Linked DNA regions of Homo sapiens: region 2 is linked to region 1. Evidence: fine-mapped expression QTL. Tissue or cell type: whole blood. Region 1 holds a variant in brackets; the other region holds the start of a gene. All regions are shown on one strand. Distances are from middle to middle.

Evidence for each region. PIP is the estimated chance that this variant, and not a neighbour inherited with it, causes the effect.
Region 2: it holds the start of GRIK4, and the variant in region 1 is fine-mapped to the expression of GRIK4 in whole blood (TOPMed, PIP above 0.99).

What each region holds. Positions count from the first base shown.
Region 1 is chr11:120,853,404-120,861,403 of GRCh38, reverse strand. The region is part of intron 8 of GRIK4 (glutamate ionotropic receptor kainate type subunit 4); the gene reads right to left. Among named protein-coding and RNA genes, the nearest start is that of TBCEL, 170 kb to the left of the region's middle. The variant T/C (reference allele first, on the strand shown) is at 3,809.
Region 2 is chr11:120,507,163-120,515,302 of GRCh38, reverse strand. It overlaps GRIK4 (glutamate ionotropic receptor kainate type subunit 4), which reads right to left and starts at 3,555. Exons shown (of 21, transcript NM_014619.5): 1 at 3,416-3,555. RefSeq lists silencers at 3,485-3,684, 3,865-3,944.

The DNA.
Region 1 (8,000 bases):
GGGTGCAGTGGCTCACGCTCATAATCCCAGCACTTTGGGAGGCCGAGAAGGATGGATCACTTGAGGTCAGGAGTTCAAGACCAGACTGACCAACATGGTGAAACCCCATCTCTACTAAAAATACAAAACTAGCCGGATGTGGTGGTGCATTCCTGTAATCCCAGCTACTTGGGAGGGTGAGGCAGGAGAATCGCTTGAACCCAGGAGGCGGAGGTTGCAGTGAGCCGAGATTGTGCCATTGCACTCCAGCCTGGGCAAGAAGAGCAAAGCTCTGTCTCAAAAAAAAAAAAAAAAAAAAAAAAAAAAAAAAGAGGATGATTTCTGAACCCTACCTAACACTACCTGAATCCGAATCTGGGGAGCTGAGGCCCAGGAGCTTGCATTTCCAGCAGGACCCTAAGTCTTATACACCTGAAGTGTGGGTTAGCACACTGGATACAAGGGGGCCTGGGAGAGGGATGGTGAGAAACGAAGCTGGGGCAGTCAGCAGAGACCAGACCATAAGAGTCAGGATGCCAGGCTTGGGAATGTGCCCTTTGTCCTATGTGTGATGGGACCCAGGGGAACTGTCAGTGGAGGAATGCCAAAACCAAGTTTGCTTTCTAAGAACCTCAACCTGAAGGTTTGCGGGTAGGGTGGTGCCTTCATTTACCACTAATTTTTTCATTCACTTGATACACATTTAAGCATTTATCATGTGCCAGACATGGTTCTAGGCATGGAGGATATGGATGAGAGAGACACACTTGTTGCCCTCAGGAAGCTTGCAGTTAGTGGAAGAGACAGATAGTAAGGAAACAAATTCATCGTCATTTCATATAGCTATGGGGATGGGACTTGGGGTGAGGGACTGCTACTTTAGATGACGCAGTCAGGGAAATCCCATCTAAAGGCAGTGACATTTAGAAGCTCAAAGGAGTTCTCCCTGCAACCCATGGTCCTCATGCAATAACGCTGGTGGGGCCACGTGTTAGCCTGCAGGTGTGAGTGCACCGAGGCCAGTTAGTGTTATAGAGAGGGGCAGTGTCCTCCTCTGAGCTCTGAGCCCTGGCCCCCAAGGTCTCCCTGGGCCCTGTACAGCGAAACCAGTCAAGAGGGTGTAGATTATTCAGCTCACTGATCCCCGCTCCCGGAAAGATGCCTTCAAATGTGCGTCAGGCCACCTTTTCACACAAAAATCACATTCATTTCATGTTCATTCCAAGTGCCTTGCACACAGATCCACACCCTGGGGGTACACAGGACTTCCAGACCCTAGGACTAGCCCGTCAGCCACTCAGCCTGACATGACAGATGGCAAGTGCCTTAGGCTTTCCTTCTGGCCAGGAAGAAAGATTGCTTTCCTCCAGGCAGTCTCCTCTTCTGAAGACTTAGCTGCTGTAGGCCCCTGGCGCCACCCTTGCATCCTTGCCACACAGCTCCAGACACTGCCAAGGCCTCAGGCTACAGGCCTCAGCTCACCTACCCAGAGCCCAGCTTCATTAGCTTACACGTGCAAACTGGAGGTACCAAGCTTCCTTTGAAGCCACCAATGCCTGACAGAGTGGATTTGGATAAGGTTTAAGTGTATTTTGGATCCTGCCACATTCCCATTAGGGGAAAAAGGACATGCCAGAGAATGTATTGATTCCTACACTGATATTATCTCCTATCTCTCTAACAGGGCAGCTGCCCATGTGCTGTGGGCTATCGGTAGGCACAAGGGGGCAGATGGCTAATGGAAGAAGATGCATTTGGCAAGGGTGCAGGGACTGGGGCAGAGCCAGACTGTTGTGGGCAAACCAAGGGGCCTGGCTGGGCATGGTTGGCAGGGGCTGGAAAATGTCCTCTTCCCTGGCTTCCTTATCATTGTGGGCAGACACATCAGCCCAACTCCATCCTCTCCCCACACACAGAGCCCGATGGATGAAGGCTCATTTTAAGGAAGCCCTGAGGCTCTGGATGTCCACAGATTCACAGTGGCAGCTGGGGTGATATAGTGGATTCAGGCTTTGGTGTTCAAATCCAGGTTCCTTACCATACTGGCTGTTTGACTTTCGGCAAGGTCTGTAACCTTCTGGGCTTCAGATCCTTGTTTTTTAAAAAGAAACAATATTAGCAACCTTATAGGTTATTTCAAGAAACAAGTAAGATGCATGTAAAGCTTAGCCTCCTATTTGGCAAATACGACAGCTACTGAAAGACCACCGTGAAATCTGGGGTAGCTTCTGGCTTTCTGCCTCTTCAGTTCCACAAGTTAGAAAGGTATTCCCTTCAAATGCATGTTCTGGGCGGAGTAAGAATGAATGAGTTAATTACAGACACTTAGAGACAGTCTACCCAGAAGTCAGCCAGTCTGTCTTCCTGCCTTTTTATTCCTACCTTCTTGTCCCACAATTCTATGCAACTTTCAAAGGCCTCTTAAGATAAAAAGATTCCAGAAGCTTCCTTGATAATTCATTCTATTTATAATGACTCATGGGATAGCCTGTGGAAGGACAAGGAAGGGGGAGGGGCACATTCTTTTACTGCCATTTCCCACGACACTCTAAGGTTCTAGTATCTAAGAATCCTTACAGTTAGGAAATTCTCCTTTTTATCTAAACTTAAGACTTTCCTGCTGCTATTGAAGACTATTGTCTAAAAGAATATGGGAAATAACTGACCACCGTTAGTTTACAAACAATGAACATCTTATGTGCCAGTATTTATCAAAGTGTGTTCCTCAGGGCATTAGGTTTCCAGGTGACACCAACAGAAATTTCATGAAGACAAGGTTCCATGCTCAGATAAGGCTGGAAAACAATGCATATTATATCTGCCTTTTCAAGATTCGTAATAATCACTAGCATATTAAAGGCTGAAAAGAGTCCAGCAGTGAAGCAGCTGGTTTAATTTTGTTTAACCCTGAACTTCCCAAACACACTGACCATGGAACAAAGCAGGACTATGGGTTTTTTTTTCTCCTCCAAAATCCATGAGTGCCTGGCAGTGGCGTGCTTCAGAACGCAATCTGGGAAATGCTACTCTACATCTATTCAGAGAAACATTTCTTAGAAATCCAAAGTCAAGTGGTGGAGACATTTTGCGGAGAGAGATATTTCATAAAACGAACACATTTCAGGAATGGAAGGGATTAAAGTTCACCCAGTTTCCGCTGCCCACCCATCTTGAGCCCTACCTAAGAATGCACACCTGGCTCACTTAGGCTCCCATTATGCCTCCCCAACCCCGCCCCAGCCACACTGCCTGGCTGGTTGTAACCTTCATACAATGACAGAAAGGAACAGTCCCTCGGGTGGAACAGGTTCTCATGGGGACCTTGATCCTCTTCTTATAAATATCCCAGGAAGGGATATCCTGAGGGTCCCTGCTCCCAACAGGAATCGACTCCCATTGTCCCAAACCAGGGAATGAGGGTGAAGAACAGAGCAAATGGGACCTGGTAAAGCCAAGTGGTGGGGCAGAGACCAGGACCAGGTCTTCCACTACTCCAAGTGTGGGTGGCTTTGTGATGGACCCCATGTTGCATTGTTTGTTCACACATGTGGTCTCTCTCTACAGGGGGCTGTGTGTTTCCAGGAAGCAAAGATATGTCTGCCTCATTTTTGAAGTTCACACTGCATCTAGAGAGTGCTTGGTACCTAAAAGCTGTTTGGTCAACGCTGTTTTGAGGACAGTTGATTGAAGACATCTTAATGCCTTGGGGTCTCACTGTGGCCAACTCTAACACCAAGCACACCCTGTCACACCTCCAGAAGGTGTAAAAACATGAGTAGAAGCTGTGCTAACCACTGACTGTCCTCTGTGAATTGCATTATTGTATTTT[T/C]TTTTTAAATCCTGACAGCTTGCTTTATCATCACTGGGCTTTCACATGAAAAACATTTTTAAAAGTGTGTGTGTGTGTGTGTGTGTGTGTGTGCATGTGTGCATACATGTGTGCAAATCTTTGTGTATACAATGGTATGTAAGGGTCCAAATAGCTATAGTTGAAGGTCAGGTCAGAGCCACAAGTGGATACGGGCAGATGTTACCCTGAGATGAAGGAATGCTTCACGGATAATGGCTTGAGAGCTACGTGGAAGGGCGCCCCTCACTTTCTGCAGCAGACGTGCCATGTCCAATGTCCTGGTTTACAAACAGGCATCCATTCACTGCAAGCTGCAGGAAGCTTTATGGGTCTACAGCCTGTTCATCGCCTGGGCCAGGGAGCAAGGACAGGCTCTGAGTGGGGGCTGAGTTGGGCATGGCCCCAGACAGGTGGAGGTCCTAGAGCTCAGGTAGTTTTGTTGGAGGATGAGAGGAAGAGAGGGTCTGGGAAACTGTGAGATTACCATGGCTGCAAGGGGCCGACCATGCCTTATACCACACAGGGTCCAGTGCCAAGAAATGTAGAGCTTTAGTGTCTGGTGTCTGGGAACATGGAGGGATAAGGGAAAGGTTGGGCAGACCTTGTGGGCAGCTTCTGCAAGGGAGGTCTAGGGGAAGCAGGGCCCCGGGGACATGTTCAGCTGGGCTAAGCAGGCAAGTCCCATCACTGGGGGTGGGATTTAGTCAATCCTGAGGACAGGACCAGGTTAGTCAACTACAGCTAAAAGCACAAGAACTTTTAATGGCCCAGATTGTTTCTGAGTTTGACCTTAAGTAGAAAAGCAAGAAACCAAAGCACAGGTCCAGGTGGTACCCTTAAATCAAGTTCATCTCCTAACCCAGGTCAAATGGGTAAGCAGGGGAAGTGGCATTCCGTGATGTTTTCTGCCCAACAGCCCCTTCCCCTTTGCCTTCCTAACCAATAAGGGCATTACTATTCTCCCAGGCACCTAAGCTAGAAACTTCAGAGACAGCCTCAACTCCCTTATTTCTTAACTCCACACCCAGTCAACTGCCAATTCTGTCAAATCTATCTCTTAAATGTCTCTCGAAGTTGTCCCTTCCTTTCCAACCCCTCCAGGTTAGGTCCTCGTCATTTCTCCTCTGCAATAGCTGCTATTTAATGGAGATCGTGCCTCTGATCTTAGGATACCTAGCCACTATGCTGTTCAATTCCCAGGTGCCATTTATACTGATGACCATGTGAATGGTGCCCCTTGGTGCCACATTGTGCAATGTGGCAATCTCATCAGGAAACAGTAGCATGTATTAGAAAGAGCACAAGTTTTGAAATAAGACAGTCCTGGTTTCAAACCCTCATTTGGCCACATACTGGCTGGCTGATTTCAGGCGGATCTCTGAACTTTCGATGTGTTCACCTGTAAAGTGCGGGTAAGAGCATCTACCTTGCACAGGTAATCCATGAGAAGTGCCTGGCACACAGGTACTCATGGCCTGGGAGTCCTCTTCTGTCCAAGTGCAATCCATCCTCCGTGCTGCCGGTGTCACCAAAGTGGGTGCACTGCCCCAATCTCCTTCCTTTTCCTGGTCCCCCTGAACTGCTGGGCCCTGCCAAAAGGAAAGATCTGGCCTGGAGGCTTCGCCTTCCTCTTTCTCTTCCTCTTTGTTTGGCAAGAGGTGACTCTTAGCTACTTGTCAAATGGGAAAAGTTTTGCTAAATAAGTCACCATAGGCCGGGCGCGGTGGCTCACGCCTATAATCCCAGCATTTTGCGAGGCCAAGGCCGGGGCATTACCTGGAGTCAGGAGTCCGGGACCAGCCTGGCCAATATGGTGAAACCCCATCTCTACTAAAAATACAAAAATTAGCTGGGCGTGGTTGTGTGGCATCTGCCTGTAGTCCCAGCTACTTGGGAGTCTGAGGCAGGATAATCGCTTGAACCCAGGAGGCAGAGTCGCAGTGAGCCAAGATGGTGCCACTGCACTCCAGCCTGGGCAACAGAGACTCTGTCTCGAAAAAAAAAAAAAAAGTCACCATAAGATGCTAATTGCTTGGTCTGGCTATTTGTGTTGAGAGAGAAGCCTTTAGTTGAAGTTCCAGATCTTCCAACCATGAATAATCACAAGAAAGCAATAATTCTAATAATAACTACTACAATTTACTGACCACCAACTGTGCGCCAGGCAAAACTGAGCACTTCACTGAGAACATGAGAGAGCTGAGGTTTGCCTCACATCGCATCTGTTCAGCATGAAGAACCCAGAAAAGGAGTCACAGCAAGTACCAGGGTGCAGCAGGTGGGAAGGAATTAGAAGTCAATGCAGTATAACTGCAGGCTTGTGTGGCTAAGATGGCTCAGAGAAACAGGCAGTCGAATGCAGCTTGGTGAACTTGGCCAACTTCTGCTGAGAGCTGTCCAGCAGCCTCAGCCGCCCCTAGTAAAATCTCTCCACGGTCATCATTATTTGAGCCTCAAATGCTTCCCCGCTGGCCTGTGAACTCCTGGAAGGTAGAATAGACTGTCTCACTCACTGCTGTGTCCCTGGCACCTAGAAAAATCAGTGAAATCAAAAGTTGCCTTTTGGGCTTAATTAAATGGTTAGGAGAATAACTGTCCTGGAGAGAGTGGGTATGGGTTTGGAGTCACCGCATTTTAAATCATACACTGTCTTTGGGTATTTTGACCTAGATGTTCCTCTCTGAAAGCCCACATTCCAAAAACCAATCTTTAAAAAAAAATCTTTTAATTTCTTTATTTTTCTCTTTTTTAATCAGAAAAGTTTCCTCATTTTAAAATGGGGGAAATAAGACTTCACTGTGCCATTGTGAGACTCAAAAAAGATAATACATAGGAGAGCTCTGTGCAGACTGGAAGTATGATACAGACTCCTTATTAGTATTATTAGAAGTAATAATAGAATAGCTCAAGGAATGCATGTTTCATGCACTTTCAGGGATCATTAGCAGGTAGTGAGGAAGGCAGTGTGCGGAGGCCTTCCTGAAGCCCACCAGATCACGCCACAAAGGTGGCTGGCTGTCTCCGGCGTCTGCATAAAGCCCTCAGCCCCAGGTAGTCCAAGAACCTTAACAGCTCCCTTCCCAGCAGGGCCACAGGCAACCTATAAAAGGTGTCACTCCAACACCTCTGTGACCTCTGAAATCTCTCCAAGTGTTAACGCTTGCACCCATTTGGGTTATAACTGGCCCTATTTGCAGCCTCTTCACTCCAGAACTGGCTCTGCTTCCTAACAGTGGTGTTTAAAATCCTTAACCCCCTTAACAGTGGGGTTTCAAGCAGTCCCTCATTTCTTGCCTGCTTTCACCCAAGCCTCAGCCTCTGATCCTCTCTGCTCCATGCTCAGCCCTGGACCCTAACTGCCTGGGAGAGGAGGCTGGCAGCCTCATGTCACCCACATCAAAGTGATTTATGAAATATCAATTTATTACTGAGTATAATAACATCAACTGCTTCCACGGATGTGGCTGAATGAAGCTTACAGGGCACTTTCATGCACTGCTTTTGGGGCTCCCGACCACAATTGGAAGTGAACAGAACAGGTTTTATTCATTTTCACATGTGGTAGAAGAGCAAACTGAGGTGCCCAGGAGTTAAATGTCTTGCCCCTAAGACAGACATGGAATTAAGATCCAGGTCCTTGGCAAATAAGACCAGTGATTATTCTATCTTCCCTACTGTGTGCTCAGCACTGGGCTAGGCCACTAGGAGGTGGTGTCAAAGCATACTCCATCACTGTGATTGTTAATGATTGACAACTTCAAATGTTCTCACCCCAGGAGTCCTGAAACACTAAACGATTCTAATTTCTTAAAATATTATTATGAAGCTGAAAAGGAGGAAGATATCCTTAAGACCGTATCGCTCTTTAACTTGAACTCCTTATCTTGCCACTTGGATCTGCTTCCCTCCCTTGGTTCCCTGTTTGTGAATGTCACATGATCCACCTGTCAATCAAGCTAGAATTTAGAATGCATCCTCCCCTTCCATGCTCTCACTGTCCACATCTCATTCATTCATTCATGTAAGCAGGTATGCACTCATTTATTGTCATTTGAGGACATTATAATTCCTTTACATCTCTTGAATCTGATCCCTGCCCTCCACCCCATCATCTCTAACTCAAATCAGATCCTCACCAGCTTGGTCCTAGACTACGGACTCATTGGTTTCT
Region 2 (8,140 bases), 350 kb after region 1:
TGCAGGGAGTGATGTGAGGACAGGAACCCAGGTCTGCCTGATACTTGGTAGCTGGAACTGGTTCCTCTTCCAGCAGCACCTTGAAGGCTGGGCAATATATGGATGGGAGGAAAAGAGGAGGAAATGCAAAGGGCCAGGGTGAGGACACACAGTGCCAGGGCTGGGTGGCCAGGGGAGGGGGGACAAGATCATGCCAGACACCACGTTGTGACATAAAGTTGGGGTCAGCGTGCAGAGGGCCTTCACCTGCAAGGCATCTTGGAAGGCACTGCCACTGACGGCTGCTGAGACAGGGTCCCCTGTGAGAAGCGTTACCCTCTGTAAGAAGACAGGCACAGCGGCAGGATGGCTGGAAACTGAGGCTGGAGGCCCAACAAGGAAGCTTTCAGGACCGTAACTCAGGGTGAACAGCCAAAGGCCCAAGTAGGGACCACGGCAGTGGGAGAGCAAAGGTCGGAGTGGACACTCGAAGTGCCCAGAAGAACTGAGTGGGCTGAGGCCTAAGGCACCAGAGAGAGGGAAGGAGGGTGCCCCAGGCACCCCGGCTGCATGCCTGGGGGAACCCAGCCGTTCTTTCCACAAGGAGGAGGCAAGAGGCAGTGCCCACTTGGGGTAGGGGGTGGTTGGTTGGGTCTAGGGAGTGGCGGGACACCCAGGCAGCCAGTCTAAGGCTGAGGAGACTACAGAGCAAAGACTCCACCAGGCCTGGGGTGGGGGTGAAAACGGTGAGCCATCACTGGAGAGGGCGAAGGGGATGAACTGAGGAACAGGCAGGACCAAGGGTGGGCTTTCTGAGAACCAAACAGCTGAGACCTTAAAAAGCAACAGCAACGAGCCCAACAGCACTGGACTGAGCGTCCAGGGGCCTGGGACCCAGCTGTGGAGCCTTGGATGAGGCATCCAGCCTCTCTGAGCCTCAGTTTCTGTTGGGTCATGAATGCCTCCTTATAAGGCTGTCTGTAAGGAGCGATCAGATGCTTGCAGGGCTGTAGTAGAGATCAAATGAAGTAATTGTTCTGAGAGGCATCTGGAATGCTGCAGAACCCCATACACACATAAGGGATTAGTACTATGCAGAAGCACCAAGAGATGCATCCTTCCCACACACGCTTGGCGCTGCCCACCCTCGCCAGCCACACAAAGGCCAGCTTCCGCCTCGCTGCTTCTCTTGCCTTCTGAGCAGTCTCTCCCCCAACCCAGGGCCGGTCCCCCTGTCCTCCCTTCCATCTCTGGATGGCTGAGAACCACCTCAGAAGCAGCTGAGCTCCTCTCTCCTGGATGCCCTGACTCCCTGCAGCTGGGACTTTCTCCTAGAGTCTCTGCCTCTCTCCCGGTACTAAAGTTCCCTCTCCATCCTAAGGGAAAACCAAAGTGGAAATCAGACCACGAAGCCGACCCAGGCTCTCGGAAGAATTTTCATTGCTGGGGAAGACAGCAGCCACCGATCAAGATGCCCAGGTAGGGGGATGGGAAAAACACAGAAAACCAAGATCCCCTCTCAACCTCCCCTCCCGAGCATCCACCTCTTCCCCACCCGGAGGGACCAGTGCTGCCTCTGGGTTTCAGGTGGCAGGTCCAGAGGAGGACAGAGGGGTGGAGCTGGTGAGGCAGGCGGGAGGCTGGTGGGCAAGCCCGGGCCACAAGGAATGAACAAAATATGGAAAATTAAACAAACCCAGACACTGTAATGTGTGCATATTAGATTAACTCTCCGAAGGGTCGTGACCTTGAGGAACACATCTGGCCAGTGAGAAAAATAATAAACCTGATTAATGATGAAGCCTGAGCTGCAGCTTCAGCAAATAAAGCCAGCATGATGACGCCCAGTGGAATTCCAGGGGCTGCCATCCCTGGTGGGACCGGAACACAGTGGACCTCGACAAGCCCCTCGCCCCTGACCACGCGAGCACAGACAGTCAGGGAGTCAGGCAGGACCGGATTTGTCTCTCAGATGCCCACTACCAACCCAGGCGGCCTCTCTCCCCGGAGATACCACGCCCGCAGTTTCCCGGTGCTCCTAGAAGTGTCACTACCAACCAGGTGACCCATAGGGAGTGAAAGTGAAGGTAGTTCTTTGTTCCTGGCAGGGCTCAGTCCTCCTGACCAGCCCTCAGACCTCTTGGCCTGGTCTTGACAGCTGCCCACTGCCTGGCAAAAGGGCCCAGCTGTGCTCAGAGCTCCCCTCCTCTTCCCAGACAACCCAGACCCTTGGGAGACATGCCCAGGAGAGCCACTGGAGGGAGGCAGGGAGGTGGCACCGCGTGGCATCACCAGACAACAGCACCAAGAGGAAGATGGCAGCATCAAGTACAGATGCCAAGAGCCACGCAGCCCAAGGTCCAGCCCGGGAGTGGCTCGGCCCGCATTGCCCCACCACTGCCAGGCAGACGGGCCAGAGGCGCCCGGGGCCCAGCCCCCTCGGCCGCCTCCTCCACCACCCCAAGGCCCTCAGCCAACTCTCCCCAGGCTCCAACTCCTCCCCTCACTTTGCTCAGCTCAAGGGAGCCAGGGAAAGAGACACAGGTGCTCTCAGTGCCTTGAACCCCCTGTCCCAGCTGTCGCCTGCACGCCCTCCACCCCAGCCAGGTCGGAGCGCACAGCTCTGCCAGTCCTCACTGAAGAGAATCTAAATCAGCTCCCCTCCCCCTCCGCCCCAGCCCCCTCCCCCATCACGCGCCCATTGCAGGTCTCTAGAGTTTCTCCCTCACTTCCCACTCGGATGAACTAGGGTGGGATGGGTGGGAGCCCCATTCTCCCCGGGAAAGAGGATCATTTCTGATAGGACGCTGGTTCCCCCAAGCAAGGCGGTGTGCAGGGTGGGGGGGTGTGGTGGTGGCCCGAGTCCAGTGCAGGGGCAGGGGGCAGTCGAGGCAGATGGCAGTGAGGAAAGGGGGAGGGGGCTTGGTGGGATGCCAGGCTGAGCCGGGATGGGGGGCTGCAGCCGGGGAACAGAGGCGCTGGGAGAAGCGGAGGGTGACGAGGTGTAGGGGAGACGCGCCAGGCTGGGAAGGGGCTGTCATCCCTGCAGGGGACAGAGGCAGGGCTGGGAGTTGCACGGGGAGGGGGAGGACCAGAGCGGGAGGACCGCGAGCCCGGGGAAGGGATGCGGAGGGAGGGAGACGGACCGGGGTGAAGACTGGAGGAACTACGGGAGCAGAGCGGTGGGGGGTTCGGCGGCGAATCTGGAGACGCAGGGACCGAAGTGCCAGGGACCGGGCTGGCGGGAGGCGGGAGCGGGGAGGAGGGCGCGGGGGCGGGGGCCGGGGCAGGGGTGCGGGGCCGCGGCCCCCGAGGGCAGGAGCGGCGGAGACGTCAGAAGTCGGGGTGCGGGAAGGGCCAGCGCGGAGGGGACTCGGGGGCGCGGGGGCAGCGCAGGGAGCGGGCCGGGGGCGCCGCGGGGGGCCGCTGCCCTTACCTGGTCGGCTCCGCACTCCGGGGGCTGAGCCGGGGGCCGGGCGCTGCCGGGCCGGCCGCGGGGCTGCTGTTGGCCGTTTTTCCTCTTCCGCAGCAGCCGTGGCGGCTCCAGCCCGATCCGCCCGCAGCTGAAGGCAGTCTGTGTCCGGCTGCGAGCGAGCCCGGCGCGGGGAGCGCGGGAGGAGCGCAGCGAGGCGCGGGGCGCCGCCCGGCGGGCAGCTGGGGAACTGCTGCGGCCCCGCGCACGGCCGGCCGGGGGGGCGCCCCTTCGGGGCCGGGCCGGAGCCCCGCGGGCAGCTGCACGCGCCCCCCAGCGCCCCTCGGAGCGTCGCCCGGGAGCCCAGGCGCGGGGGCGGCGGGGGCGGCGGGAACGGCGGGGGCTGCTGCGGGCAGGGCGGGCGCGGGTCCGCGCGGCCGGGGGCAAACTTGCGGCTGCCCGGGGGCCCGGGGCCGAGCGAGAGGCGCCCGGCTGGGGAGCGGCGCCCGGCAGAGGCTAGGGGCGCGCGGCCAAGCGGGCTCTGCGAGGTACGGACCTCAGGTGGGGAACCCGGCGCAGCCCGCACACTCCACCGCCCTGCGCAAAGGGGCAGCCCGCCCCGGCCCCGAGGAGTTATTAGCCCGGCGGCTTCAGCGAGCAAGGGGCGCCCCCTGGTGGCATTCGGGAAACAGCGCGGGGGACGAGCGTGCCCCGTTAGAAGAGACTGCGGCCTCAGTGGTGCGGAAGATGGAGAGGTGGAGGTTTCATGGGACGAGACAAGAGCACCTTGTTCAGGAGACTGAAGAGCAACAGCTTGCATGGAGTCATTCCAGAGCACTGTTGTATACATACCAACATCTTGGGAGGATCTCATGTTACGCATGAAGATCCTGAGGCTAGGAGAGGTGAAGGGACCAGGCCAAGAACACACGGGGAGCAAGTGGCAGGACCCAGGAGGCAACCCCGCTTTCTGACGCGCGGTTCATTTCAGTACACCGTGTGGTTCATCCTAATACAACAGAGTTGCCCTTAGGAGGAGGCTGGGTGAAGAGGGAGTCCTGGGGGAATAGGAGGGAGGGCAAGGGACACGTGACCCCCTCAAACCTATTAGCTCCCTCTTATCCAACCCGCAGAGTCTCTGTCTTGGGCAGACCACCAAACTGATCACACCGGCCCTCTCACCTTCAATGGCCTGTATCCCCACACCCAACCACCAGCACTCCCACAATCTCATTAAGCTCTCTGTGAAGGGTTTGTTCACAGACGTCCTTGGTCAGGTCTCACGCATGAGGCATACTATCGGGACTATAGACTGTTCTGGACGTTGCATTCCCCGGGGAGGGCTGGCTGGCTAGCCTGGGCGCGTACTGGGCCTCCTGCTTCAGGAGTCGTGCCTATCCCTCCCCCAGCTCCACACACTGGCTGGATGAATGCCATATGCGAACAGGGCTCCATTCCTCCAGCCAGACATTATTTAGCACCTACTGTTTGCCAAGACTATACCGCTTACACAAGTGTGATTCCCAATAATCAACTTTGCAAGGTAGGTGTTGAGGTGACACTAGTCCCATTTTACAGAGGATGTTAAACCTGTTAAGGTTTAAGAGCACCTGTAAGCCAGTGACACAAAACTAATTTCTAATTCCAACTCTATTCCCCCACTCTGGAACCCCCTCTCTTGTGCAAAATGGACGGAACAGCAGCATAAGCCTAGCAGAAAGTGTACGGGGCTGGGAGGAGGGAGAGGCATCCCTGTGATCCCAGCAAGCGATTTCACTTCCCTGGACTTCAGTTCCCATAACTCTAAAAGTGAGGGAAGCAGACTAGATGATCTCTCAAGCCGCGCAAACTCTGAAATGCCAAGCATGGATCCCTGGCCCCTTTCACGGGAAGAATGCAAGATCAGCGAGACCAGAGAGGCTTATTAAGTGTTTGGAAAGAAAAATACTATATAAGTGAAATGCTTCATCATATTCTTTTGCCTGGTGATCTCATCCTATTAACCAGGGAAGCGGGGAGGAGCTTTTGGCAGGTCAGAGAGATTGCTGATGGCTCTGGAGATAGTCTTGGCTGTGGCCTCCTGAGGGCCCTGGTTTCTCCCCTTCTTGCAAGAATGGTTCTGACTTTCTTTTCCTTTCTTAAGGCCTCTGCCCCTAGAAGCAGGGAGTCCCTACCAGTCACAGGGTGGACAACAATGTCAGCGAAGTCTGCCGGTACAGAAGTCTGCTGTTAGCCTCAGCCTGGTTGCCCCCACCCACTCTCCTGTCTCCCCTTGCTGCAAGATGTTGAGTTCTTTGGGATACTTACTACTTGCTCTCCACCTTTTTTACTACTGAAAAAATTCAATTCCAGGCAAGCTGACTTCTCAAGCTCAGCTCCAGGGGTGGGAAGGTCAGTCCAGATCTTTTTTGGAAGCCACAGGGGGAGAATGTCAGAGGGCCACGAGGCTGGCCCCGCTGATCTACTCTGAGGCTGCTGCCTTGAATGAAAAAACAGAAGGGTTGGGAAATGGGGCTCCCACCTCTAGAACCTCTCATCTGAAACATCCCTCACAGCCAGCTGCTATGCTGTGCAGGACGGATAGGATTCATTGTGCTTGGGCGCCATGGTGGTCGGAGCGCACAGGAAGGAGTTTGTTCTCTTGGATTTATCTTTAATTTCTTCCATCTATCTGCCTCTGGTATATCCACTAAGAAGAATATTTGATCTTAAATGTACCTGCCATGTCTTTTCCGAAGGTCCCTTTGAAGGTTCATCACACATTCATAATGATCCCTCTGCATAAATGGGGCCAGCTGAGGCACACGGTGAGCAGGTGACTTGTTGTCACCTTGCTGAGTGGCACATATCATATCATGTCACCATGTCTTAGAAACTATTGCAGCGGCCCTCTAGCTCATCTCCCTGCCTTTAAATTGGCTCCCTCCAATATGTCTACAAATGGCTGCCAGAGTGATGTCTCTAAAACAAGCTTCACCACTTTACACCCTTGCTGAAAACCCCTTCATGACCTCATATTGAGTCCAAAACTTTTTTTTTTTTAAGACGGAGTCACTCCTCTGTCACCAGGCTGGAGTGGAGTACAGTGGCGGAATCTCGGCTCACTGCAACCTCTGCCTCCCGGGTTCAAGCGATTCTCCTGCCTCAGCCTCCTGAGTATCTGGGACTACAGGCACCCGCCACCACGCCCGGCTAACCTTTGTATTTTTAGTAGAGATGGGGTTTCACCATGTTGGCCAGGCTGGTCTCCAACTCTTGACCTCGTGATCTGCCCGCCTCGGCCTCCCAAAGTGCTGGGATTACAGGCGTGCACCACCGCACCCAGCCTCGAGTCCAAAACTTCTTAGCACAGCATACAAGTTCCCTGCTTACTTCCCCACCTCACCCATCATCCATTTCTGTCCATCTCACCTTCAGTCAGTACCAAGCAGCACTGAGTTCTCTGCTCATCCCATTTCATACCTCTGTGCCTTTAACACACTGAATTCTGCCCAGAGTCCCCACCCTACCTCCCACATACACACTGATACACAAGTTCCTATTAACCGCTCAGAATTCTGTTTGGGAACCTCTCCTACTAGAAGTTTATCATACCTGGCTATCTAGTCCCTTCCCAACAGAAGTAATTACTCCCTTCTCGGGATCTCTCTTGTGCTTGTTAGAGTTTATGGTCACTTACTTGTTTCACGTCTGCTCTCACTAATAGACTGTGAGCTTGTTCTCCTGGATTTATATTTTAGCTTCTCCCTTCTTTGTATTTGCCTCAGGTATATCCGCAAATCAGATATTTGATCTTAAATTTACCTACCATTTCTTTTCCAAAGGTCCCTTGAAGGTTCATCTCAAGTTCATAATTAGACTATAGGCTTTTTAAAAAATCTCTGGCCGGGCACAGTGGCTCACACCTGTAATCTCAGCACTTTGGGAGGCCGAGGCGGGTGGATCACCTGAGGTCAGAGTTTGAGACCAGCCTGGCCAACATGGAGAAACCCTGTCTCTACTAAAAATACAAACTTATCCGGGCGTGGTGGCATGGGACCTGTAGTCCCAGCTACTCAGGAGGCCGAGGCAGGAGAATCACTTGAACTGGGGAGGCAGAGGTTGCTGAGATCGTGCCATTGCACTCCAGCCTGGGCAACAAGAATGAAACTCCAGCTCAAAAAAAAAAAAAAAAAAATCTATTAACCACACAGTGCTTGGCATAGGAGATTCTTAGTAAATGTGTTGAATGGATAAACCAATAGAGAGAAGGGGTTAATGAGGTCTACAGTTCTGGCAAATCGGATTTGCTCCTGTCATTTGTCCAGATGAGTCAGATGAAATCCTAACTGGCAAATATGAAACTGTGCCCTTGGTAAGCTTAAAGTCTTTACAACCTAAGTTGAAGCTGGGGTTCACATTTGAGGAACTTAGGTTGAAGGAAGCAAGGGCCTGATTATATATCATATTGCAAGACTATTAAAATTCATCAGTCCTATCGGAGTACTTAAACTCCAGATTAAAAGAAAATAAATTCTGTGTTCTTCTTGTCACTTGTTTGGAGGATAAATGGTTCATTCTTACAGCAGATGTCTCACAGAACCAGTTTTGAAGCAGAAGTGAGTTAGAAGGAGAAATGTTCTCGATGTTTACTCATGCTTTAAAGGATGCAGTAAGCAGTGGTTTTGCCCAGTGATATTATGGGCAAGTATTGGCAAAGAGCAAACATATATGTGTGTGTGGTTCACATAGTCCCCAAGTCTCATGGCA